Linked DNA regions of Homo sapiens. The protein of the gene in region 4 interacts with the protein of the main gene of each other region in a pairwise test. Each region holds a gene or a part of one and is shown on either strand. Other genes may lie near its edges. The genes, in order: SEC22B, TRAF3IP3, PAEP and GORAB.

Region 1 (7,031 bases), about 50 Mb from region 4:
GTGCATGACTGATTTTATTTAACTTAATGTCCTCCAGATTTATCCATGTTGCTGCTAATGATAGAAATTCATTCTTTTTTATGGCTGAATAGTATTCCATGGTGTGTGTGTGTGTGTGTGTGTGTGTGTGTGTGTAAAAAACACTTTTAAAATCCATTATTCTCTTGATGGACATTTCTCTTGATTATCTATCCATAGATATTATGAATGGTGCTGCCGTAAACATGGGGGTACAGATAAGTTTTTAACATAATGAGTTTTTTTCCTTTGGAGAAATACCCAGCAGTGGGATTGCTAGATTGTATGGTAGTTCTGTTTTTAGTTTTTTGAGAAACCTCCATACTGTTTTCTATAGTGTATAAAAGTTCTCTTTTCTCTTCATCCTCAACAGCATTTATTGACTTTTGTCTTTTTAATAGACATTTTAACTGGGGTGAAATAATATGTCGTTGTGGTTTTTATTTACATTTACCTGAAGATTAGTGATGTTGAGCATTTTTTCATATACTTGGCCATTCGCATGTCTTTTGAGAAATGTCAATTCTGTTCCTTGCCTACTTTTTAATTGAATTATTTTTGGTTTTGCTGTTGAGTTGTTTGAGTTCCTCGTATGTTCTGGATATTAGTTCCTCATCAGATGAATGAAACTAGATCCCTATCTCATCATATACAAAAATCAACTTAAAGTAGATTAAAGACTTAAGCATAAGACCCTAAACTATAAAACTACTAGAAGAAAACATAGGGGAAATGTTTCAGGACATGAACCTGGGCGAAGACTTTATGGCAAAGACTTCAAAGCACAGGCAACAGAAAAGAAAGTAGACAAATGGGACTGTATTAAACTAAAAGCTTCTGCACAGCAAAGGAAACAACACAGTGAAGAGACAACTTGCACAATGGGAGAAAATATTTGCAAACTCCTACTTAAACTAAAGAACCTCTGATTTTATCTGATATATACATTGGCCTTCTGAATATGTTTTGCTTGTTATATATACATATTCCATATATAAATATATATATTTGCATGTGTGTGTATGTATACTATGGCTAAAAAGAAGTTGGAAAACCACTTAGTAGCCTAACATTTTTCTAAGAATTTCTCAGATGTGTAATCATACAGCCCCTTCCAGAGTGCATGGGCGCTCATCATCACAAAAGAAAGTCAGTTCCATTGTTGATAAGTTTCCAGTTGATTACAGAGTTCTCCTGGACTGTAAATTAAGGAGTCTTATTAGTCTTGTACCCAGTAAACATTATGTCATTAACCTTACATTTCTATCCACAGAAATTTCCAGTTACAGTGTTTTCCTTTGTGGCTGGAAAGAGTTTAAATATGTGTATGCTAGTTTACCATATAGAATCAAAGGGTGGATGGAGTCACAACTCTGAATTTTTCAAGAAAAAGTCTTAAGTATTAAGCAAAAAACAACCCCATTTAAAAAATGGACAAAAGACATGAGCAGATATTTCTCAAAACATACTAGAGGCTAGCAAACTAATGAAAAAATGCACATCACTAATTATTGGAGAAATGCAAATCAAAACCACAATAAGATACCATCTCACAACAGTCACAGGGCTATTATTAAAAAGTCAAAAAACAACAGATGCTGATGAGGCTGTGGAGAAAAAGGAATTGCTTATACACTGTTCGTGGGAATGTAAATTCAGCCACTGTGGAAAGCAGTTTAGAGATTTTTCAAAGAACTTAAAACAGAACTACCATTAGACCCAGCAAACCCATTAATGGGTTTATATCCAAAAGGAAACAAATCTTTCTACCAAAAATCATGCACTTGCATATTCATTGCAGCACTATTCACAATAGCAAAGATATCAACCTAGGTACATGTTAGTGGTGGATTGGATAAAGAAAATGTAGTATATATACAGTATGGAATACTATGCAGTCATAAAAAGAAATGAAATCATGTCCTTTGCAGCAACATGGATGGAGCTGGAAGTCATTACCTAAGTGAATTAATGCAGGAACAGAAAACTAAATACTGTATATTCTCATTTATAAGTTTATAAGCTAAACATTGGGCACTCATGGACATAAATATACTGAGGACTTACTAGAAGAGGAGGGAAGGAGGGGGCAGGGGTTGAAAAACTATTAGGTAGTATGCTTAGTACTTGGGTGACGGGATTGTTTGTACCCCAAACCTCGGCATTATGCAATATACCCAGGTAACAAACCCGCACATATACATCCTCAAGCTAAAATAAAAGTTTAAAATGTTAGTTGAAGAATTGTGTAATGGGCTGGGTCCAGTGGCTTACACCTGTAATCTCAGCACTTTGGGAGACTGAATTGGGTGGATCGATTGAGGTCACGAGTTTCAGACCAGCCTGGCCAAAATGGTGAAACCCCATCTCTACTAAAAATACAAAAATTAGCTGGGTGTGGTGGTGGGTGTCTGTAATCCCAGCTATTTGTGAAGCTGAGGTGTGAGAATCACCTGAACCTGGGAGGTGGAGATTGCTGTAACTGAGATCATGCCACTGCATTCCAGCCTGGGTAATCTGGGTGATGGAAAGAGCCCTGTCTCCAAAAAAAAAAAAAAAAAAAAAAAAGAGAATCTAATGGATGAAAAATTATAATAAATATGTCTAAATACTCCTTTTAGAATATACGGCTAATAGGCTGGGTGCAGTGGCTCACGCCTGTAATCCCAGCACTTTGGGAGGCTGAGGCGGGCGGATCACGAGGTCAAGATATCAAGACCATCCTGGCCAACCAACGTGGTGAAACCCCGTCTCTACTAAAAATACAAAAATTAGCTGGGCATAGTGGCGCACGCCTGTAGTCCCAGCTGCTCGGGAGGCTGAGGCAGGAGAATGGCTTGAACCCGGGAGGCGGAGGTTGCAGTGAGCCGAGATAATGCCACTGCACTCCAGCCCAGGGGACAGAGCGAGACTCCGTCTCAAAAAAAAAAAGAAAAAAAAAAGAATATACATCTAATAATGGGAAGATGTTTGCTTTCTGATTCCAAGGATTTGCGGTTTTAAATTGACTCTCGTTTAGCCAGCCTCAAAGTATTTAGGCTAGATTTTTTAAAAAGTTTGCATGGTACAGAGATTCTGCTTTAAACTGTTGTCAGTGCTATTACTTTACAGATAACTTTGTCTTGCTTTTTATGTCTCACCAGCTACATTATTGAGCAGGGGGTGTGTTATTTGGTTTTATGTGAAGCTGCCTTCCCTAAGAAGTTGGCTTTTGCCTACCTAGAAGATTTGCACTCAGAATTTGATGAACAGCATGGAAAGAAGGTGCCCACTGTGTCCCGACCCTATTCCTTTATTGAATTTGGTAAGTTTTTGCCCCTCACTTCTCTCTATCAAGGGAGCAAACAATATGGAGAAGCTATTTGTTACACTGATATAATATTTATACATTTTTTCTGATGTTTACTTGCTGAAGTTTTAGCTTCTGCATCCTTTTCCATTCCACTTCTTTTTGTCTTTTTGAGTGACTAAGGCTTTGTTCTGAAAAGTAATTTTCTCTAGTCTTTTGATCTTTCCCCCATAGAAATTGTTGCCTTTTGCCCTTTCTGTTATTTGGTTTGATTCTTCTTTAGAGTCACATGTGACAGGAACTGTGCCTAAAGATCTACTTGATTGGCATATAATGGCTGAGTTCTTCTTTACCCCAGTCCACAGACTCACACTCACAATAAGGCTCATTTTATGGAGATCAGAATTGGGAAATCAGAAAGAATGATGTTTTGTTTCTTTTAGTAGAATAAGATCCTCTAATTAAAAAAACAAAACATAACAAAGAAATAGAAGATACCTGGTACTCATGGTATTGGGGTATAATATTTACTACATTCAGGAATAGTGAGCATAGGTGTCTGTATTTGTGCAAGAATTATAGAAAGACTAATTACTAATCAGACCTGGTAAAGTATCTGATGGTAAGGGATCAAAGGAAATGTCCTAAGTACAGTAAGTACAGGGAGTGAGAACAAGTAGGATCAGGCTATATCGCTGAAATTTTTAGTTAAAAGAGAAATTGGTTTTACTGGCTTAGAATTTTTGAAGTGTTTCAAGTTTGCTAGATAAATGGGTCATCTTGCTTTGGAAAAACACTCTAGTGTTTCATAACTATATACTCTCCAAGTGCTGCTTTATATAATGTCCAGTTTTTCAAATTTTATTTTTATAGACAGTAATACTCCCATAAACCTCCCTCAAAAATAAGACAAATGTATCAGGGTCATACAGGAAACAGATGGCACACCCAAATTAGCTTAAGGGATTATATACAAAGATATGACTAGGCTGTAGGAGAATTACAAGGTACAGTAACCTCTGACCAGTAGCATACTGGTTGTTACCATCCCTAGGCCTGAATGTATAAGGGGGAGGAGCAGTTTCTGAAACTGAAAAGGAGAAAATTTCTAGAGAAGGCCAACTTGAGAGGAGCGTAACTTTTGGTAGAGGGATACTTCCAGAAGAAGGTTATTTCCTTCTCTGAAAGAAGCCAGGGGAATAAATACCCGGACATCACTCACTGTCTGTTCTCCTTCTTCCCTACTGTTGGGGCTTCTTCATTGCCTGAACCTAACTGGCACAGAGCAAGGAGTCTTGAGGCGCTTCATCCAAGTCAGCTTCCCAGTGCAGAAAGCAAGGTGCAGGAGGGCAGAGAGGAGATCTAAAGAGGCAAATGAAAGGGGTACAGCACACTTAAATTAAGATTTTTGCCAAAAGTTGAAAATATCTTTAATAATAAGTCATTCTTCCTATAGTTTTGAGAAATACTGATATGAGCAAAAGATGGATGAGACTTCAGTTTTTATTTATTTATTTATTTACTTAGAGACAGAGTCTCGCTCTATTGCCCAGGCTGGGGTGCAGTGGCATGATTTTGGCTAACTGCAACCTCTGCCTCCTAGGTTCAAGTGATTCTTGTGCCTCAGCCTCCTGAATAGCTGGGACTAGAGGTGCACGCTGCCATGACCAGCTAGCTAATTTCGGTATTTTTGGTAGAGATGGGAGTTTTGCCTTGTTGGCCAGGCTGGTCTCGAATTCCTGGCCTCAAGTGATCCACCCATCTTGGCCTCCCAAAATGCTGGGATTTATACGTGTGAGACACAGTGCCTGGCCGAGACTTCAGTTCAGTTTTGTATTGGTATTTTGGAAAACTCCCTATTACATATTTGCTTTACCTGAGGTTTAAGAATGGAATGAAACTGGGAATGTATATTAGAGAAAAGGTAAAGTTTCTCAGCTTTTTAATGATCATGAACCCTTTTGCCATGTTAGGCTGTAATAATGCTAGAGTGTTACCAGCATCCTTTTAAGGAATGTGTAGAGGTAAGTAACACTTAGCCTAAGGGTCCTCAGAATACTGTTTGAAAATTTCTGTTTTCAGGAAAGGCTTACTATAGTGGGTCTTAATTTCTCTAAGGATTCTGATAGCAGCCTTAGATAGCAAATACTTCTAATTCAAAGGTATTCAAAGGACATTTCTCCTGAATGGTCGTCTAATTATACCTTTACATCTTACAAATGAAATAATCAAAGCCTAGATTTTGATATTCAACCAAGAGTTTGGTTAACCATGGACAGTGGCAAATCCAGGAATAAACTCAGAACTGTTTTGGTTTTTTTTTTTTTGTTTTTGAGACAGAGTCTTGCTCTGTCACCCAGGCTAAAGTGTGGTGGTGGTGTGATCTCGGCTCACTGCAACCTCTGCCTCCCAAGTTCAAGTGATTCTCCTGGCTCAGCCTCCTGAGTAGCTGGGATTATAGGCGTGTGCCGCCACGCCTGGCTAACTTTTTATATTTTTAGTAGAGACGGGGTTTCACTGTGTTAGCCAGGATGGTCTCGATTTCCTGACCTCATGATTCACCTGCCTTGGCCTCCCAAAGTGCTGGGATTACAGGTGTGAGCCACCGCGCCTGGCCAACTCAGAACTTTTAATCTCCTACCTCAGTACTTTGATGGCCATGAAAGAAATGGTCAGTTTTCTTCATCATTCTAGATACTTTCATTCAGAAAACCAAGAAGCTCTACATTGACAGTCGTGCTCGAAGAAATCTAGGCTCCATCAACACTGAATTGCAAGATGTGCAGAGGATCATGGTGGCCAATATTGAAGAAGTGTTACAACGAGGAGAAGCACTCTCAGGTATCTAAAAGCAATGAGTCTTATGAAGAAATGGTTCTCATTCCATAGACAAGGATAGCTTATTTTGCAGTGCCTTTTATGCTATTAGATTCTACCTAGAACTGTTAAGAATTTATCTCCCAGAAGTACATTACATTACAATGCTTCCAATATATTTTTTTTCCTAGCATGATTAGTTTTTGTTGAGTTGGAACAGTGTAAAGGACTCATCCATATTAGAAGCAATGATTATTTCTAAGATATTCACAAAATTAATTAAATTATATAACTTGTATAAATTAAGGGAAATGAATGAGAGAAAACTCAATGATGTATTGCAGTGGTTTTTTGAGTAGCCTCTTTGGGAGACTTTACTGCTGCCAGATCAATCTTTATAAAATGCCATTTTCATCAAGGCATTCCTCTGAAAAACTTTTAAATCTGGGACTACAAGATAAGATCCAGTCTGACTTATTTTTCCGTCAGTCAGCCATTGTTATTGAGAGCTTGTTATTTGTAAGGCATTGTGCTCTACATATGGAAAATAAGGAAGATGCAAATGTCTGTCATTCTCTAGTTCACAAACATTCTTCTGTAGCCACACCAGCTTCTTTACTATCCTTAGTGGTCTATTCTGCCTTATGCTGGACCTGTTCTGTAAGACCTCCATAAGAACTGTCTCTTTAAAGAACCTTTCTCTGATCCTTATAGCCTGTATCACATTAATCTCTTCTGTACTTTAAACTCCTAAAGCACTTAATAACATAATGGTTTTAGCACATATTACATGTATGTGTGTTTACCTAATTTACCTTAAATATATTTATTAAATACCTCTTACCATATTAAATATATATTTAATATATATTAAATATATTTCCATATAACATAAGTATATATTTCA
Region 2 (7,031 bases), about 39 Mb from region 4:
TTCATGTGCTTGTGGGTTTGGATGGCACAATCTGTGTCTGGGCTAAGGAAAGCAGACTTGGCACCAACATTAACCCTGACAGGTTGGTAATCCTAAAGAAATGGAACCCTCAGCCCCAACAGTATTGGAGCCAGATGCTCTGAAATGGGTTTTGGCCAGCACTAGGCATGTGGCAGATGCTCAGTCAATATTGATTGGACTTGATCTGCACCTGAGAGACACAGCCCAGTCCTGAGCTTGGAGTGGGGGGCCCATGGACCATTGTCAGGACAGCAGGTTGGAGGAATTAGGGTAGGGTTTCCCTCCTAAACCATGCCAGGTCCAGGCTCACAAGCTCGTTGCTAAAAGTCAAGAAGAGAGCAGTGGGTGCTGGTCACAGGACTGGTCACCACCTGAGGGGGTGTGGTTAGCCCTCCAGATCCTTGAGAAGTGTCACTCAACTATGTTAGTGACAGCTTGGACCAAGAGACCAGTAAAGATACTGACTTTCCTTTTCAACTGGGGGATAAGAGGGCAGATTGGCTCAACTTAGCTGCTTCTCTAGAAGTCTGGAAAATGAACACACACCTGCCATCCAAGAGGCTATAAGCTCATTATGATTTTAATCAATTATTTCTCATGTTCCCCTGACTCAGAGGCATGGTAAGATGTTCAGTCAAGGAGTAAGTGGCAGCCATAGAGACCCTTTTACTTTACAAAGGGGAAACATCGGCTAGAGAAAAGCAGGAATTCACTTTTATAAGACTGTATTAGTTCATTAGAGACTGAGCCCAAGAGTCCTGACTCCCACTTTGATACCACCATGTCCTCAGTTTTCAACCCACATGGATGGAACTCTGTGCTATTTCTGCCCCCTGGTCTAGGGAGATAGTCATTTTTCTGCCCATCTTCTGACCCCTCCCCTTCTCCTCCCTCTTGGCATTTGGCAGATCCAGGCATCTATTCCAGGAACTGGAAGCCAAGCGCAACAGGTGCTTGGAGGTCATCATGATCAGCCCAGACCCCAGGCCCTCCCCTGGCTTGGCCCGGTGGGCTGAGAGCTATGAGGCCAAGTGTGAGCGCAGGCAAGAGATCCGTGAAAGCCGCCGCTGCCGTCCCAATGTGACCACTTGCCGCCAGGTGGGGAAGACGCTGAGGATCCAACAGAGAGAGCAGCTCCAGAGAGCTCGACTGCAGCAGTTCTTCAGGAGGAGGAACCTGGAGCTAGAGGAGAAGGGCAAAGCGCAGCATCCCCAGGCCAGGGAGCAAGGGCCCTCCAGGCGGCCAGGACAGGTGACTGTCCTCAAGGAACCCTTGTCTTGTGCCAGAAGGATTTCTTCTCCCAGAGAGCAGGTGGGCCGTGTCAAGGGACATACTGCTGTGTGCTCTGGGACCCTCTCTGGACAAGGAGGGTGGGTGGGCTCAAGGTCACTAAAAAGTGACCTAAATCAAGTCCTTCTTCCTCAGTCATATAGTAAAGTTGCCAAGAGCTACTTATAGTAAAGTTGCCAACAGCTACTTATTCAGAGATTTTTGCTGTTGTGTTTTCGTTTGTTTAGCTCTTTTTGTTCTGCACTTGACTTATAAGAGAGAAAAAATAATTTTTAAAAACAATTTCAGGCTGGGCATGTTGGCTTATACCTGTAATCCCAGTACTTTGGGAGGCCAAGGCAGGAGGATCACTTGAGGCCAGGAGTTCGAGACCAGCCTTTTGATAGAGACAAGACCCTGTCTCTATCAAAAACTTTACAAACTAACCAGGCATGGTGGTGCACACCTGTAGTCCTAACTAATCAGGAGGCAAAGATGGGAGGATTACTTGAACCCAGGAGTTTGAAGCTGCAATAAGCTATGATCACACCATTGCACTCCAGCCTGGGCAAGAGAGGGAGACCCTATCTCTAAAAAACTTAAAAATAAAATAAATAAAAATAATTCCAAAGCTAATGCCTATATCAGTTCAAATTTAGGCAATATACACATGTCTTCTACAGCTATCTTACAGCATTCATTCATCCATCAGTCATCAAATATTTACTGAAAGCTTATTATATGCCAAGCACACAGGCCAGTCTTCTTGACACACACACAGACATATCTGTCCTCTTTTCTTCTGCAAGGCTGTTGTGCCCACTCTTCTCACTTCCTCTTGTGTCATTCCAATTCTATTAAATCACTTGACTATAGCCTCATCTGGTCCAGGAAGCTTTCCCTGGCTTCTCCAGGCCACCTCTGCTGTCTATGGGCCTTGTGAGGTTAAAATCTTCTAAGATTGTGTAACCCTTAGAGGGCCCATTAGTCTGGCCTGGAAAGGAACAATGTTGGCAAAAACCAGGGTATGCTGAGATGACCTTGGCCAGCAAACCATCTTCCTACTGAAGTTGTGAGCATGTTGACAGCAGGGATGTGTCCACTATGTTCCATGGTAATGCTTGGCATTGTTCCCTACCCAGAGTGGGTACTCTATCAGGGCTTCTTAACTAGTGGATCTGTTATGCTCAATAGGAGATGCTGTTCAGAGAAATGATCCTAGAGCCCAGTTGCAAAAGAAAAGGAACTGTATACTAAAGCAAAAAACCTTCCCACAACTCCCCACTTTACCTAGTCTTCACACAAAACCTCAATGATTTTCTAGCTGTTACTAAGAGAAAGGAGGCTTTCCTTTGAATATGGAAGGAACCTTATGGATTATCTATTCCAAACTCCTCACTACACAGACAGAAGACTGAGACCTAGAAAAGATGGGATCTGAACCCAGATCCCCTCACTCCCCACTCAGACCAGTTCTCTTTCCACATCACCATGCTGGCTATGTAAGTGGCCATAACCAAACAAGGTAGAGAGAGAAAAAAAAACAACAACTAGAGATTCTAGAGAGAAAACCTGGAGAAAAGTACAGCTCCACATATGCCTGGCCTGAGGAGGACCATTTCTGCCAGTCAGGACAAGGATATCAGGAGCAGGAGAAGCCTGTGTGGCTCTGAAAGCTTGAGTGGGCTACTTTGGTTTTGTGGATCTGAAACATTGTCTTCGTCCTGTAATGAATTACCACAGACTGGGTGGCTTAAATAACAGAAATTTATTTCTTACAATTCTGGAGTCTGGAGTTCTAAACCCATGGATTCTGCAGATCTGGTGTCTGATGAGAGCACTCTTCCCACTATGCAGATGGCCTTCTTCTCATTGTGTCCTCACAAGGCAGAGAGCAGAGAGAGAAAGCAAGCTCTCTCGTGTCTCTTCTAATAATGGCACTAATCCCATTCATGAGGGCTACCTGCTCTGACCTAATTATTTCTCAAAGTCTCCACCTCCTAATACTATCACATTGGGAGATAGGATTTCAACACACAGATTTGGGCGGGGGGACAATAAACACTCAGTCCATAACAAACATGATGGTTAGTTCTTCCTTCCGAAATCATCAGGAGAGTCTTTCAAGAGGCTCCAGGCAGTGGTTTTCAGCATTCCCCACTTGCCTTCCAGGTGACAGGCACCAGCTCTGAAGTCTTTCCAGCCCAGCATCCTCCTCCCTCAGGCATCTGCAGGGATCTGTCTGACCACCTCTCCTCACAGGCTGGGGGCCTTCCTCCACAGGACACTCCCATCAAGAAGCCACCCAAACACCACCGTGGTAAGAGCAGAGCCTCCCTCACTCCACAGGGCCTGCAGAGAATCCTGAGACAACTGTCCCAGCTCACTGGCAATGGAGAGTCCCTGTCCCTCCCCACTTCCCTCACTTCCTCCCTGTAAGTTCTAAATCAACTTATCCTCCATCTCTCAGGTACTCAGACAAAGGCAGAAGGACCAACAATTAAGAACGATGCCAGTCAGCAAACCAAGTGAGTTCCTGACCCTAACCCTCTCACATCCCATCCATTCCTCTCTAGAGAGAACACAATGAATTTCCATGTCCGCCTTAATTAAGAAAGAGGAAGCCCTTCCCCACCCTACTGGCTCTTCAGAAGGAATCAACCCACTGCCTCCTGACTTGATTCTTTGGTCCATTATCATTATTTTTAATTTCTTCTCTTTCCAGTTACGGAGTTGCAGTTCTGGATAAGGTAAGCACATATTCACTTTGAAGGGGTCAAATCAGAAAGTATTAAGCTCTGACATTCTGGAATTCCATGATAAACTTGGCTGGGATGGAGGGGCATCTTCTTCCTGGATGGCAAGGGGGTACTGAGCATAGACATGGGGACTAAAGGGACCCTGTCAGAGCCAAAGCAGAAGAGGTTTGCTCTACACAAGCCAGCCCAGGCTCTGGTTCTATATCCCAGGGTTTCAGGGGACTTACAGACATTTTGAATACCCTTGTTCTTTCTCTCCAGGAAATCATCCAGCTTTCTGATTACCTCAAAGTAAGTGGCATGTGACCCCTCCCCTCAGTTCCTCCATCCACTTACCCCCGATCCTCCAGGTTAATCTTACCCTCTTGCACTTTGTGCCCGCACCCCCAGGAGGCCCTACAAAGGGAGCTGGTCCTAAAACAGAAAATGGTGATTCTCCAAGACCTACTGTCCACTCTGATTCAGGCCTCTGACAGCTCTTGGAAGGTAAGGGAATGAAATTCTTTTTGAACAAAGCTTGGGCTTCTATGTGTTCCCATCTCATTTTTCTTTCCACATCATCACAGTAAGAGAAGGGGTTTTCTCACTACTGAAAAGTAAGCTGGGAAGAGGCAGGAGATGAGGGGGATGGTGCTCAGACCTAGAAGTCAAACAGGTCACAATAAATATATGGGTCATCACCTGAGGGTCATGGTGCTACATATCCAAGGAAGACCCAGAAACAAAAGTGGCAAGAATTCCCATTTTTTAATTTGTTGGAAGGAATGAAGGAAGATCCCAATATAGTTTACATTACTAAATATGCTAAATGTCAAATATTTTCATATGGGATTCCCACTGATATTTATCGAAACCAGCATGCCATGTACCCACTCAGTCCGAATAAAAATATCAGAGTGGGAAGGGACCTTAGAGACAATCTGGCCTAATACTCTCATTTTGCCCATGAGGAAACTGAGCTTCATAGGGGTCAAGTAACTTGCGAAAAGTCACACAGCTAGGTAGTGGCAGATCTGCAACTAAAATTCAGGCCTTTGATTTTAGTCCATTCAATGTACAATATTCATAGGTTATGTCCTCTATACAGAGCACTGGACTAGCACTAGAAATAATGAGATTATTTAGATAGGGTTCTTGCTTTGAGAAGGCTCACGGTTTTGTAAGAAAGACACATGACTAAACAATACAAAAACATGAAAAATAAAAGAAATGTTTTCAAGATATAGGAAAATACAAGAAGGAATGAGTGACTCCAGAGAAGAAAAGAGCCAGGGGAATACTTATATAAGCATTTGCCAGGAAAATATGGAAGAAGGAATAGTATTTTAGTTGGGGTACAGGCAAAGGTCTAAAGGCAAGGCCGGGGGTGGTGGCTCACACCTGTAATCCCAGCACTTTGGGAGCCCGAGGCGGGTGGATCACCTGAGGTCAGGAGTTCAAGACCAGCCTGGCCAACATGGCGAAACCCCGTCTCTACTAAAAATACAAAAATATTAGCTGGGTGTGGTTGCACATGCCTGTAATCCCAGCTACTCAGGAGGCTGAGGCAGGAGAATCGCTTGAACCAAGAAGGCAGAGGTTGCAGTAAGCTGAGATCACCTCATTGCACTCCAGCCTGGACAAAAGAGCGAGACTCCATCTCAAAAAAAAAAAAAAAAAATCTAAAGGCATGACACAGTCTAGTAAAATGGTTCTCCAATTTTTTTATTTCAGGATTCCTTTATACTTTTTAAATTATTGAAAATATATAAGAAATGTTTATATTTACCATACTAGAAATTAAAACAGTTGGCCAGGTGCCGTGCATCATGTCTGTAAATCCCAGCACTTTGGAAGGCTGATGCAGGAAGATCACCTGAGGTCAGGAATTAGAGACCAGCCCGGCCAACATGGCAAAACCCTGTCTCTACTAAAAATACAAAAATTAGCCAGGCGTGGTGGTGCACACCTGTAATCTCAGCTACTCCGGAGGCTGGGCCACGAGAATCGCTTGAGCCCAGGAAGTGGAGGTTGCAGTGAGCGATGATAGTGCCACTACACTCCAGCCTAGATGACAGAGCAGGACTCTGAGAGACAGGAGAGAGAGAGAGAGAGAGAGAGAGAGAGAGAGAGGGAGAGAGAGAGAGAGGAAGGAAGGAAGGAAGGAAGGAAGGAAGGAAGGAAGGAAGGAAGGAAGGAAGGAAGGAAGAAATTAAGATAGAAATTGAGAAAGAATTATTAATTTTAAAATAATGAGAGTAAAATTTTTCATGCTAACCTGAATTACATGTTTTAAGAAAAACAGTCTGGGTGCGGTGGTTCACACCTGTAATCCCAGACTTTGGGAGGCCAAGGCAGGTGGATCACTTGAGCTCAGGAGTTCAAGACCAGCCTGGGCAACATGGCAAAACCTCGTCTCTACTAAAAATACAAAAAATTAGCCAGGTACATTGGCATGCACCTGTAGTCTTAGGAACTCAGGAGGCTAAGGCAGGAGAATCTCTTACGTCCCAGGGGTGGAGGTTGCAGTGAGCCAAGACTGCACCACTGCATTCCAGCCTGGGCGATGGGAGTGAAACTCTGTCTCAAAAAAGAAAAAGAAAAAGAACCATATTTTCAAAAACAAAATTAGTGACAGGAGTATCATTGCTTTACACTTTTGCAAATATTTTTAATGTCTGGCTGAAAAAAAAGACAGCTAGCTTCTCAATTTGCTTCTGTATTCAATCTATTGGTTTAAACATAAAGAAAAATTCAGTTTCACACAAATATGTCATTAGAAAAAGTAAGACTTTGCTGATCCCTTAAAAGGGTCTTGGGGATTCCCAAGTTTCCTCAGAATCCCCATGTTGAAACCTGTAAATTAGTATGTACTATAAATTCATGTATTAATATGAGCTACAAGCAGCTTGACACCACCAAAGCATACCGCACCGGGTGGAAAGAGATGGAGCACACAACCTCACCGGCCTGTGTGACATCTCACCCTACCTTGAAGATGGC
Region 3 (7,582 bases), on a different chromosome or scaffold from region 4:
CCATAAGGCAGATGTACTCGTCTGTCTAACCATTCATTCACGGATGGAGTTTTCCAGTTATTAGCTATTACAGGCAAAGCTGCTGTGGACAATTGTGTACCGGGTTTTCTGTGTCCATTTATCCCATTTCTCGGGATAAATGCCCAGGAGTAAAACTGCCAGGCTGTATAGTAAGCATATGCTTATTATTTTTGTGTTGTTTTGTTGTTTTTTTACACGGAGTCTTGCTCTGTCACCCAGGCTGGAGTGCAGTGGCGCAATCTCGGCTCACTGAAGCCTCCACCTCCCAGGTTCAAGCGATTCTCCTGCCTCAGCCTCCTGAGTAGCTGGGACTACAGGTGCACACCACCACACTCAGCTAATTTTTTGTATTTTTAGTAGAGATGGGGTTTTACCATGTTGGCCAGACTGGTCTCGAACTCCTGACCTCAGGTGATCCATCCCCCTCTGGCCTCCCAAAGTTGGGATTACAGGCGTGAGCCACCACTCCTGGACCAGCATATGCTTAGTTTTAAAAGAAACTTCCAGCTGGGCGTGGTGGCTCACACCTGTAATCTCAGCACTTTAGGAGGCCAAGGTGGGAGGATCTCTTGAGCCCAGGAGTTCAAGACCAGTCTGGCCAACATAGTGAGACCCAGTCTCTATTATTTAAGCTTAAAATTTTTTAAATAAAAAACAAAAGCAACTTCCAATTTCCAGCATGGCTGAACCATTTTAGAGCCACTCAAAGTATGCATTTCTCAACATTTTGAGAGATTCAGTTTGTCTCCATCCCCACTAATATTTGGTTTGGTCCCTACTTTTCATTGTAGCTGTCCTAATAGGTCCCTACTTTTCATTGTAGCTGTCCTAATAGGTCCCTACTTTTCATTGTAGCTGTCCTAATAGGTCCCTACTTTTCATTGTAGCTGTCCTAATAGCTGGGCTGTGATAGCTCACTGTGGCCTTAATTGGTGCTCCTTGATAGTCAATGACATTGAGCATCTTTTTAGGTGCTTATTTGCCACCCATAGATCTTCTCTGGGGAGATGTTCCTTCATGGTTTTTGCCCATTTTCTAGGTGGATTTTATTTTTGCTGTTGAATTTTCAAAGTTCTCTATATCTTCCAGACACCAGTCCTTTGTTGGATATGAAACTTTCAAATGTTTTCTCCAAGTTTGTAGCTTGCCTCTTCATCCTCTTTTTTTTTTTCTCTCTCTCTCTCTCTTTGTTTTTTGAGACGGAGTCTCACTCTGTCACCCAGGCTGGAGTGCAGTGGCGTGATCTTGGCTCACTACAACCTCTGCCTCCTGGGTTCAAGTGACTCTCCTGCCTCAGCCTCCTGAGTAGCTGGGATTACAGGCATGTGCCACCAGGCCTGGCTAATTTTGTATTTTTAGTAGAGATGGTGTTTCACCATGTTGGCCATAGGTGGTCTCGAACTCCTGACCTCAGGTGATCCGCCCACCTCGGACTCCCAGAGTGCTGGGATTACAGGTGTGACCCATCACGCCCGGCCCCGTTCATCCTCTTAACAAGGTCTTTCTGGAGCAAGAGTTTCAGATTTTGATGCAGTATGATTTACCAGTTTTTTTCTTTTGTGGATCTTGCATTTGGTGTCAAGTCTAAGAATTCTTTACCTAGCCCTACGTCCTGAAGATTTTCTCTCACGCTTTCTTCTAAAAGTTGTATAGTTTTATGTTTTACTTTTAAACTATGAGTTAATGCATATGTCAGGTGTGAGTTTTAGATGGAGGTTCTTCGTTTGCATGGGATCGATTGCACGTGATGAATTGCTCCAGCACCATTTGTTGCAAAGACTGTCCTTCTTTTAGAGGGACTCCCGCTTGCCAGGCCTCTGGTTTAATGAAACATGACCAGAGTGACTCCATCTTAACGTGAATAACTAGACACTCACAAGGCACCTATAAGGTTATATAACGAGGCTATGCTGCTCGATACTGACTACGACAATTTCCTGTTTCTCTGCCTACAGGACACCACCACCCCCATCCAGAGCATGATGTGCCAGTACCTGGGTGGGTCTCACAGCACATGAGCTCAACGTGGGTGAGAGGCAGCAGCTACTTCCATGGCTGGGAACCCTGGGGAGCTGACAACTGGCTTCCTGTCCACCTCAGTGCCTGTGGGCTGGTTTTTTCTTTCTTGGTTTTTTTTTTTATTTGTTTGTTTGCTTTGTTTTTTTTGAGACAGGGTCTCATTCTGTCACTCAGGCTGGAGTGCAGTGGCGTGATCTCGGCTCACTGCAACCTCCACCTCCCAGATTCAAGCGATTCTCGTGCCTCAGCTTCCCGAGTAGCTGGGATTACAGGCGCGAGCTTATGGTCTGAAAATACCCGCATACTAAGCTGACCACCAATTATAACTGCAGAACATTTATGCCCATACGAGGCATCTCCCACCAAGCCTGGAGAATGTACCGATGACCTGGGAGTGCAGGGGGTTATCTTTGCTCACAAATAACGTCAACGAGTAGGCTGAGGCTGAAGGGCAAATGGTCATTGATCACACTAGGAGCCCCTATCTTTAGCGAGTGCATCTGCATGATCCAGGTTTCACTGTAGCTCATTACAGCTTCTTACAAACAGAGGCACTCACAGAGGACGGGCGTTCCTCCTGCTCGCTGAGGTTGCCCGGCTCTGGCACAGAGTCATTTCCCATAAACTTGCTTTCACTGTGCTCTGTGAGTCACCTTGAATTCTTTCCCGTGTGAGATCTAAGAACCCATTCTTGGGGTCTGGACTGGGACCCTCTTTTCCGACAACACTTCCCCCACGCACTGTTCTTGCAGCTTTGTTAAAGGTCTGTTGTTGTTGTGTGTGAGTCCATGTTTGGACTCTCTATTTCCCATTGATCTATGTGTCCATTTCTCTGCCAATACCACAATCTCTTGGTGACTATTGATAATAGTGCTTGTAAACTTGGGTAGACTAACTCTTTATACTTTATTCTTCTTCAAAATGGCTTTAGCAATTGTAGCTCCTTTGCCTTGACATGTAAATTTTAGAAAAAAAAATTTCTCTATATATCTACATATGGTGGGGTGTGGTGGCTCACACCTATAATTCCAGCACTTTGGGAGGCCGAGGTGAGCAGATCACTTGAGGTCAGCAGTTCGAGACCAGCTTGGCCAAAATAGTGAAAACCCCTCTCTACTAAAAATACAAACATTAGCCAGGTGTGGTGGTGGGCGCCTATAATCCCAGCTACTCTGGAGGCTGAAGCAGCAGGATTACTTGAACCTGGGATGCAGAGGTTGCAGTGAGTCAAGATCGTACCACTGCACTCCACCCTGGGCAACAGAGCAAGACTTGGCCTCAAAAAAATGTATATATGTATATATGTGTGTGTGTGTGTCACACACATGTCTATAGCTACCTACAAAATATCTTGCTGAGAATTTGATAGGAATTGCATTAAATCTCTAGGTTGAGTTGAGGAGAGCTAACACCTTTGCTGTGTTGAAGCTTCCAGCCCATGAACACATTGTGCCTGTCCTTTACCTTAGGTCTTTGATTTCCCTTCCTTGGGTTCAGAGTTTAAGTCCTGTCCATATTTGGTGAGATTTTTGCCTACATGCTGTGTGTGTGATTACAAATCCTGAATTTCCAGTTTCGGGTTCTGTCTACTCCTTGACACTGTGTGGGAACACGGTGGATTTTTGTGCGATTGACCTTGCTGACCTCACTCGGTTCTAGGAGGGGTTTTGTAGAGTTCTTGCAATTTTGTACCTGGGCAATGATGTTATATGCGAATAGAGACAGGTATACCTCCCCCTTCCCAATCTGCCTGCCTTTAGTTACCATTTCTTGCCTAGCTGCTCTGGCCGGAATGACCTGCTCTGATGGATGGGGGAGTGGGAGTGGACACCCGTGTCTTGCCTCAGGACTCAAGTGCTCTCCAGGGAGTGAGATGCGGGCTCGATTGTAAGTTACAAAGTGATGCTTCCCTGTGGGAAAAAGTACATCCAATATAGACTGTAGGACAAAGTCTGAAAGTCCACTGCCTCCCATTTCCACCCAGTCTTGCCTGTGAGTCAGAGAGAAACAGTGCTAACAGGCAGTGTGCACCTGTCCAGAGGCTGGCTGTTTGAGGGACACAGGTGTGCACACCTGGGGATGTCTGAGTGGAAGGTACAGGTCAGGATTATGACCGTGCAGTCAGTCACCCACTGGCATGATGTCTGTGGCATCCTGGGGCAGCCATGGGGCTCTCAGGCCCTCTGCCTGCCCCACAGGCCATACCCCTGCCCTGGACACAGCTGTCCTCAGTGCTGGCCTCTGACCCAACATTGTCCAGGAGCCCCAACCCAGAAGGTGCTCCCGCCGCTGCCAGCCTGGACCCGACCCAGGCCCCTCCCGCCTGAGGCCCTGCCAAGAACTGCCCAGCCCGGACACAGAGGAGGTTCCCGCGTGGACGCAGGGAAGAGCCTCCCATTGCCCCAGTGGAGGAAGCTGCCCAGGGGCCAAGGATGAGTCACAGGTTCGAGGAATCACATGGCGAGGCTGTGGGCGGGGATCTTGTCTGCCCTCCTCCTACATAAGGCCCCCTGAGCCCACACTGCCTCAGCATCCCTCTGGCTCCAGAGCTCAGAGCCACCCACAGCCGCAGCCATGCTGTGCCTCCTGCTCACCCTGGGCGTGGCCCTGGTCTGTGGTGTCCCGGCCATGGACATCCCCCAGACCAAGCAGGACCTGGAGCTCCCAAAGGTTTGAGGCTGGGGGAGCGGGCACTTTACTGTGGGAGGCCTGGGGCGGGTGGGAGCTGCGGGCAGGCAGGAAGCCCAGGATCTCAGAAACCTACAGGAAGCACAGAATGGACGCCATGACGTCAGGAAGCCCTCAGCCCTGCTCTCCATCTTTAGGGTGGCCTCTCTGGTTTCCCAGCATCCTAGGTGACTCATTATTTGGACTTTGGAACACTCCTGAGTTAGCACACACTGGTCATTTTAAGTACAGGAAATTTCATAGCCCAGGATCTGGTAGATAGCAGACAACCATCCAATGCTCACTGTACCCATCCCAGTTAGACTCAGCCCCGTCTGCACCGGGTGCAACGAGAGCCATGGTGGGGTGGGACCGCCGTGCAGCCCAAGGCCCCCTCAGTTGGCAGGGACCTGGCACTCCATGGCCATGGCGACCAACAACATCTCCCTCATGGCGACACTGAAGGCCCCTCTGAGGGTCCACATCACCTCACTGTTGCCCACCCCCGAGGACAACCTGGAGATCGTTCTGCACAGATGGTGGGTTTCTCATCATTGAGACGGGCTGGGCGGGGGCTCAGTCTCCCCCCTCAGGGGTCCAGGACTGGGTGGGTTGGGCGGAGCTGGACTTAGCCCCAGGCATTTTCTGACAGCCAGGGGCTTCACTGTGGCCCTTCCATGAGGGTGGGGTGGAAAACCAGGGCTCCAGACGTTCCCTGTCCCCTTGGATCCCCTGCCCCAGGCTCTGGGCCAACAGCCAACCACACAGTGCAGCCCCAGGTCAGACTGAGGAGAAGGTCTGGGCGGCTGCGGGCTGCGGTGCTCCTTGGACCCGGGGAAGTTCCCGTGGTGACCTGATTTTAGGAGTGACAGTGAAGGCAACTCCAATTCAAGTGGCCACTCATCCTATTGTCACCACCTTTCAGGGAGAACAACAGCTGTGTTGAGAAGAAGGTCCTTGGAGAGAAGACTGAGAATCCAAAGAAGTTCAAGATCAACTGTGAGTGTCCCCAGGCCCCAAGGGCTGGCTCAGTGCTGGCATGCTAGCCACGCTCTCCCAGAGGCGGCTCTGCTGGGGCATGAGGGAGTGGGGCCTGGCCTGTCCCCACTCTCTCTGCTTCAGGGAGTCAGAGTGTTTACTCCGGTCAACCTGATGCTGACCCCAGAGGCATCTTTTACCTGGAGGGCAGGGGAAGCACTAATTCTTGGCATGACATGACTGGATGTGGGTCTGCACTGTGCCCAGGCACAGGGGACAGGTGCTTTGTTGCACTGTTCACTCTGGCCTCACAAAAGGCCAGGGAGGCTGCAGGCGAGCAGGTGGGCAGGTGGGCAGGTGGGTAGGTGGGTAGGTGGATATGTATACAGGTGGGCAGGAGGGTAGGTGAACAGGTGGGTAGGTGGGCAGGTGGCTAGGTGAGTAAGTGGTTAGGTGAACAGGTGGGCAGGTGAGCAGGTGGTTAGGTGAACAGGTGGGCAGGTGGGTAGGTGGGTAGGTATACAGGTGGACAGGTGGGTAGGTGGACAGGTGGGCAGGTGAGTAGGTGAACAGGTGGGTGGGTGAACAGGTGGCCAGGTGAACAAGTTGGTAGGTGGGCAGGTGGGTAGGTGAACAGGTGGGCAGGTGGGCAGGTGGGCAGGTGGGCAGGTGGGCAAGTGGCTGCTGTTCCCGTGGGCCTGGCTGCCTCCTGCGCACTCTGGGGCTGCAGCTCTGGTCTTAGGCTGAGCTCCCAGGCCTCTCTGGGGGAAGAGAGAGGGGCTTACAGCATGTCCTTGGTCCACTGAATTCTTCCTAACAATTTGCAACATTTTGTTCTATTTTGTTAATTATTATTTTTTTAAAAAGACAGAGGTGGTCAGGGTCTGGGGCCTCTTATCCCCTCATGGGCACATTTTCCCAGCAAATACAGTTTGCTTCTCATGCTTGGGACTTGCCTCAGGCCTTTCTGACCCTGCTTGCCCTCCCCAGAATCGAGCCACTCTCCAAGGTCCATTTCTTCTCCCTCTTCCCGCCCCTGTGCCCTGTTCCTGTGCCATCTCCCGCCATCCTCACCCGTACGTGACTTCTCAGTTGGAGTCTCTCCAGGTCACAGCCTCCCTGCCTGCCGTGTCTGCCTCTCCACGGCACACCTGGCCTCTCCCCCTCAGCCGGGGCTCCATGGCCCTCCACATTGCCTCTCCTCCCCTTTCCTCCCTGGCTTCCCTGATCATGGTCCACAGCAGGGGCCACGTCCCATGGTGTCAGTGGATGAGGAAGCCACTTAGTGTGGTGGGATGTCCACACACCTGCACAGGACTCTGCTGAGACGGAGGCTTCATCTTCCTTTTGGTTCTTCTCTTCTTTCCCCAGATACGGTGGCGAACGAGGCCACGCTGCTCGATACTGACTACGACAATTTCCTGTTTCTCTGCCTACAGGACACCACCACCCCCATCCAGAGCATGATGTGCCAGTACCTGGGTGGGTCTCACAGCACATGAGCTCAACGTGGGTGAGAGGCAGCAGCTACGTCCGTGGCTGGGAACCCTGGGGAGCTGACAACTGGCTTCCTGTCCACCTCGGTGCCTGTGGGCTGACTTTTTTTTTCTTGGTTTTTTTTATTTGTTTGTTGTTTGCTTTGTTTTTTTGAGAAAGGGTCTCATTCTGTCACTCAGGCTGGAGTGTAGTGACGTGATCTCGGCTCACTGCAACTTCTGCCTCCCAGATTCAAGCGATTCTCGTGCCTCAGCCTCCAGAGTAGCTGGGATTACAGGCGCACGCCACCATGCCCAGCTAATTTTTGTATTTTTTGGTAGAGACGGGGTTTCACCATGTTGGCCAGGCTGGTCTCCAACTCCTGGATCAAGTGATCCACCCGCCTTGGCCTCCCAAAGGG
Region 4 (5,200 bases):
ATTCCATCCCCCTTTAAAATAACAAAACAGTTCTATAATTACATTTCCAGTTCACTCTGTCTTACTGTGTTATGTATAATGCTCTTATTATTTTGTTCCAGAATGTCATCATACACTAATTTGGTATTACCCACCTGACCATAGGCTGGTAGTGCAGTTTGTGAAACTAATCAATATTTTAAACATTAAATCACTCTGTGGGAGAATATATATTCGTATTTCTGGCCAGAAGGACTTTAAATAAATAAACAAAATACAAAATCTTCAGTGATTTATCCAGGGTGATAGATCAATGGAAACCAAGGGACCTGTTCGCAAATGTTAATTTCAATTCAGTATTCATGAATCCAGACTGTAAATCTCTACTGATTGACTTTGACTGGCTGAAGGAGACCACAGACTTGCAGAAAAGGGAGGTTTGAGGCAGGGTCAGGGCAGGGTATTCATACACCTATAGAGAATGTCAGAACTCTTGTCTTGTTGCAAGAACATTACATGAACAGGGTATGTTATAAAGTATGGAGATAAGGGAACTAGGTATCCAGTAGAGTTCCTTTAGAACAATTCTTTTAACATAGAGGGTTATTGAAAGATAATGGGTGCTCTCATTTTTACATTTACTATATTTACAGTTAAAAAAGGAAATAGGATAAATTAACATTATGTAAATGAGTTTTCAAGTATAAATACCAGGTCCCTAAATTTTCCATAATCTTAATTTTAGATTCATGCTTACTAATATATTAACAGTACTTTTTGATTCTGGTGTTCTAAATGAGAAGTTCTGTTTCTTGAGCACCTACCAGGCACAAAACTGGAAGTTTGCCCCATTTATACTGTTTAATCTTCAAAACTCCTATGAGGTATTATTATCATCATTGTTTTACAGGTAGACCAAGACTCAGCTTAAGTAACTGCTCAGAGTCACTGTGCCGGAATTTTCAGTTATTGCATGCCTCTTCCCCAACCCCTTCCAGAGGAACCTGGCTGTGTTTTGGACTCAGGATGCTGACCTGGGGCATACCTAATTAGAATAGTGATGGGCTACCGACTCCAGTACATTTAATCCATAGGCTAAATAGTGGTTCACGGCATGGCCTGACACTAAGAGTTCTGTTTAAACTGAGATGAGCCGGGCAAACCTATGTTCTCCTCTGAGAGTGTGGAATTGGATCACTGAGAGATTGGGTGGAGTGAATTTGATACAGAGTGCAGGTGGTGGCCATATTGGCCTGTGAGTATGATAGGAAAGCTGAAATGAGAGAAAATGTGTCGCTTCTAAGCATTGAAAAGAATAGCCTTTGATTCTGATGACATGACTATGAAATTGCCTCGTGTATCCTACAATAAAACCCAATTTTTACCTGAGCTAGTTTGACTGGATATCTGTTCTTTGTATCCACAAGAAGCCTTGACCGAAATGGGTACACATGGTAAATGTCAGGAAGGTTTTGAACCCTGAGTTTTCTAAAATGAAAGCCATTTATTATTTTCACTGTATTTTCTTCCAAGACAGAGAATCCTAAATTAGGAGATATACCTGTTTCTTTTTTGCTATAACTCTTGTACTAGAAGCTACTTATTACACTAAGTTGATGTAGGCACTCATAACAGGTAAAGCAGCATGGCCTTCACAACTGCTAATGGTAATGAAATTAAAGAACTAGTTGGAAATCAATCTTTTTTCTTGCAAGAGAGGAAGGACCCTCTTGTTGCAAAAAGAAAAGCAACAAATTTTATAGAAAAGGCAAAAGACAATAAATTAAGACACGATAACTCTTCTTTTTGTACTGACCTAATGCAGAAGAAAAAAAGTGAGATTGCAAGGTGACTTCTCTAGTAGAATTGCCCTATTTCACATAAGACTTCACATAAGATTACCTGTCAACAGAGTTTATACATGTGTAACTATGTAAAATTTCCTAGTAAGAGTGTAAGAGGAGTAGTGGAGAGAATGAGAACAACTTAACCCAAGGATTCTCAACTGGGAGCATTTGTGTCCAATAAGGGACATTTGGCAATGCCTGGGGACATTTTTGGTTGTCATAAATTTTGGGAATTACTGGCAACTAATGGGTAGAAGCCAGTGATGCTGTTTAGCATCTTGCAGTGCAGGACAGCTTCTCACAACAAATAATTATATGGCCCAAATTGTCAGTAGCACCAAGGTTGAGAAATCCTGCATATAGCTATCCTGAGGTTTTCTACTTGATGTTTACTTCTTGCCCTCACCCAGTATCATTTTGCTGGGTGTGCTCTGTTCCATTTATATTCATCTCCCGACCACTGTCCGTATCTTTCTCCATCAGAATTTTTCTTTTTTTCTAATTTATTAATCAAGAGAACAATTTTCCACTTTCTCCATCTCTTGTCTGTCTTCTCATAAATTTAACCAGCTGTGTGCTGAAGCTAGCTTACCCTGGTTCATGTGGATTTTGTGTATCTCTTCCCAGTTCTGCATTCAGTAATATCACGTTGGTGGCTTGAAATTGGACAGGGTGGTAGTAATTATCCCATGGAAATGTAAACGCTACAAATCAGGGCTCCCCATCCTCCCACCCCAGAACTAGCATACCACTGAATTAACCTTTTAGCCTGCCTTCACTCAAAAACAGCTTTGTAAAGAAAACATTCGTGCAGAATAACATGTTTTCATTAGGTGAATTCAAGTAAGGATACTGTGAAAGTTTCAGCAGCCATAGCCTAGTCTGGCCAACATGTAGACAAGTGTTTGTAAAGTAGTAATATCCGTATCTTCATTATATATTTTTTCCCAATTTTGGAGTTGAGTTATTGTTTCTAGATCCTCTTTTGAATATCTTCTTCAATGGAAAACTGATGGACCTATCTTTATACACATCCTTACAGGAAGCGGTTTGACAGGGCTGAAGCAGAGTACATTGCAGCAAAGCTAGATATACAGCGCAAGACTGAGATAAAAGAGCAACTCACTGAACACCTTTGTACGATCATACAGCAAAATGAGCTCCGAAAGGCCAAGAAGTTGGAGGAGTTGATGCAACAACTAGATGTAGAAGCCGATGAAGAGACTTTGGAGCTTGAGGTGGAGGTCGAGAGATTGCTACACGAACAAGAAGTAGAATCAAGGAGACCAGTGGTTCGTTTAGAGAGGCCATTTCAGCCTGCGGAGGAGAGTGTGACATTAGAATTTGCTAAAGAGAACAGAAAGTGTCAAGAACAAGCTGTTTCCCCAAAGGTAGATGACCAGTGTGGAAATTCCAGTAGCATCCCCTTTCTTAGTCCAAACTGCCCAAATCAAGAAGGTAATGACATTTCAGCTGCTTTGGCCACATGAAGTTCTGGTATTCTTTTGAGCTAATATGGTATTGAGTAAAGTATACTTTTTGCAGTAGATCATGCCCTGACCTCCAATAAAAACCTCTTTAAAACAATGCTGATTTTTGAATTCATGATTAGTTTTAGTAAATTAATAGGTTTGGCCATTCTAAAATCCAAAATTATGATAACTGTATTTCTAGGGGTATGTTTCACCTTGATTTTGGCCCGGTTCTTTCAGTGTTCCGTTTACCCTTTTTACTGAAAGTAAGTGACTTAAAAGGATGGAAGAAAAACTACATGGTTGGAGTGTTTTTAGATCAGATAAATATAGAAAAGTAAAATGGAAAATGATACTCAATACCTAGTTAAACTCATTTCACTTCTCCTGGGAGACGTATTAAGACTGGAAGTCCTATTTTATTTAATCAGTATCAGTAAAAAGACAAAAATTACAGTGTGAACAAGAGAAAAACAGGAATAGAAGAAAAAAGTTGCAGGTTGAATTATCTATCTGGATATTACTAGAGTTGTAAAACACAACTTGGAAACTGGAATTTATGTGAAGAACCAAACAACTTAAACCAGCATCACTTTTGTCTTCAATTTGCCTTCCAGTGATTTTAGTTTACAACCTGCGTTTTGTTATTTGAAACACACACACTTATATATAAACACATGTAATTTTACTATTTTATTGTCTTTCCTTTAATCGATGAATTGATTAAATTTAGACAATTAAAACATTTCTAAAGTGAGACTGAAAATAATATAGAAAATCTCATTGCTACTTGTGATTATCAAAAAAAGTATGTATTTTCTTTCTAAAGTTATCTATAAATATGTTTTTGATATGTTGGACATGAATTACCCTGTCATGAAGCGTTTAAATTGTTAAAATGCTGATTTTCTTATTAGTTTGTTAATTGCCTGTTACTAGTACTTGACCAATACATTGTGCTATATGTAAATGTGTAAATAAATATTGTAATTTTCTCACAAAGTCTGTGAATATCACATTATGATTTATTTATCAGAAATTCCAAAAAGTAAAAATATTACCTTTGAGGACTTTTTTTTTTTAAAAAAAGAATTATTATCAGAGAACATAAGCACAAGTATAAGATTGTATCCATAAAAGTTTCTGAAAAACTTAGGGACATCCTGTTTTTAAATGGGTTTGTTTGAGGGTATTATCTTCTGGTAATATAGATGAGCTTTATATTTTTATATTATGTAATTTGAGTTGAAAGTATAACATTTTACTACTGACTTCTCTAAACAGAAGCATTTCTATAGATAGTTGTGCTTTTATTTATGAAATACATAAAAGCCAACAGTTTCATTGTCTAACACACTTCTTTTTCTAAGGAATAAACAAGTCTGATGTACTTATAGTGTCTTTCATTTACCTTAAAAAAATTTCAAACAGTTTAGTATGTATTAAGCATTGTGTGACAATAATGCATCTTGGATCTCCTTGTGGTACATACAGTTACTTACTTTTATTAAGCCTCTGTTAAGGAAAATTCATTATCAGTGAGGTTTTATAATATTGGTTAAATGCAGGCATGTGCAATCTTAATTCTCAGTGTAAACCCTTCAAAGATATATGAAGAAATGAGAACCGTGAAAAAAATATAAGTTAGATGAGACCTCAGAGATAATCTAATTTAATCTTTTATTTTTTTGAGATGGAGTCTCACTCTGCCACCCAGGTTGGAGTGCAGTGGCACGATCTCGGCTCACCGCAACTTCCACCTCCCAGGTTCAAGCAATTCTTCTGCCTCAGCCTCCCAAGTAACTGGGATTACAGGTGCCTGCCACCACACCTGGCTAATTTTTCTATTTTTAGTAGAGACGAGGCTTCACCATGTTGGCGAGGCTGGTCTCAAACTCCTGA

What was found.
Region 1: the proteins of GORAB (region 4) and SEC22B interact in binary tests that used the Homo sapiens proteins (3 or more experiments, as listed by UniProt).
Region 2: the proteins of GORAB (region 4) and TRAF3IP3 interact in binary tests that used the Homo sapiens proteins (3 or more experiments, as listed by UniProt).
Region 3: the proteins of GORAB (region 4) and PAEP interact in binary tests that used the Homo sapiens proteins (3 or more experiments, as listed by UniProt).

What each region holds. Positions count from the first base shown.
Region 1 is NC_000001.11:120,159,501-120,166,531, reverse strand, and holds part of SEC22B (vesicle-trafficking protein SEC22b), read left to right. Parts: intron 1-3,161; coding exon 3,162-3,322; intron 3,323-6,001; coding exon 6,002-6,148; intron 6,149-7,031. UniProt on the Homo sapiens protein: SNARE involved in targeting and fusion of ER-derived transport vesicles with the Golgi complex as well as Golgi-derived retrograde transport vesicles with the ER.
Region 2 is NC_000001.11:209,759,053-209,766,083, forward strand, and holds part of TRAF3IP3 (TRAF3-interacting JNK-activating modulator), read left to right. Parts: 5' UTR 1-82; intron 83-929; 5' UTR 930-987; coding exon 988-1,332; intron 1,333-3,462; coding exon 3,463-3,610; intron 3,611-3,760; coding exon 3,761-3,818; intron 3,819-4,015; coding exon 4,016-4,040; intron 4,041-4,310; coding exon 4,311-4,340; intron 4,341-4,439; coding exon 4,440-4,535; intron 4,536-7,031. UniProt on the Homo sapiens protein: Adapter protein that plays essential roles in both innate and adaptive immunity. Plays a crucial role in the regulation of thymocyte development.
Region 3 is NC_000009.12:135,557,188-135,564,769, forward strand, and holds the start of PAEP (glycodelin isoform 1 precursor), read left to right. Parts: upstream 1-4,568; 5' UTR 4,569-4,614; coding exon 4,615-4,710; intron 4,711-5,106; coding exon 5,107-5,246; intron 5,247-5,632; coding exon 5,633-5,706; intron 5,707-7,056; coding exon 7,057-7,167; intron 7,168-7,582. UniProt on the Homo sapiens protein: Glycoprotein that regulates critical steps during fertilization and also has immunomonomodulatory effects. Four glycoforms, namely glycodelin-S, -A, -F and -C have been identified in reproductive tissues that differ in glycosylation and biological activity.
Region 4 is NC_000001.11:170,549,147-170,554,346, forward strand, and holds the end of GORAB (RAB6-interacting golgin), read left to right. Parts: intron 1-2,868; coding exon 2,869-3,316; 3' UTR 3,317-4,688; downstream 4,689-5,200.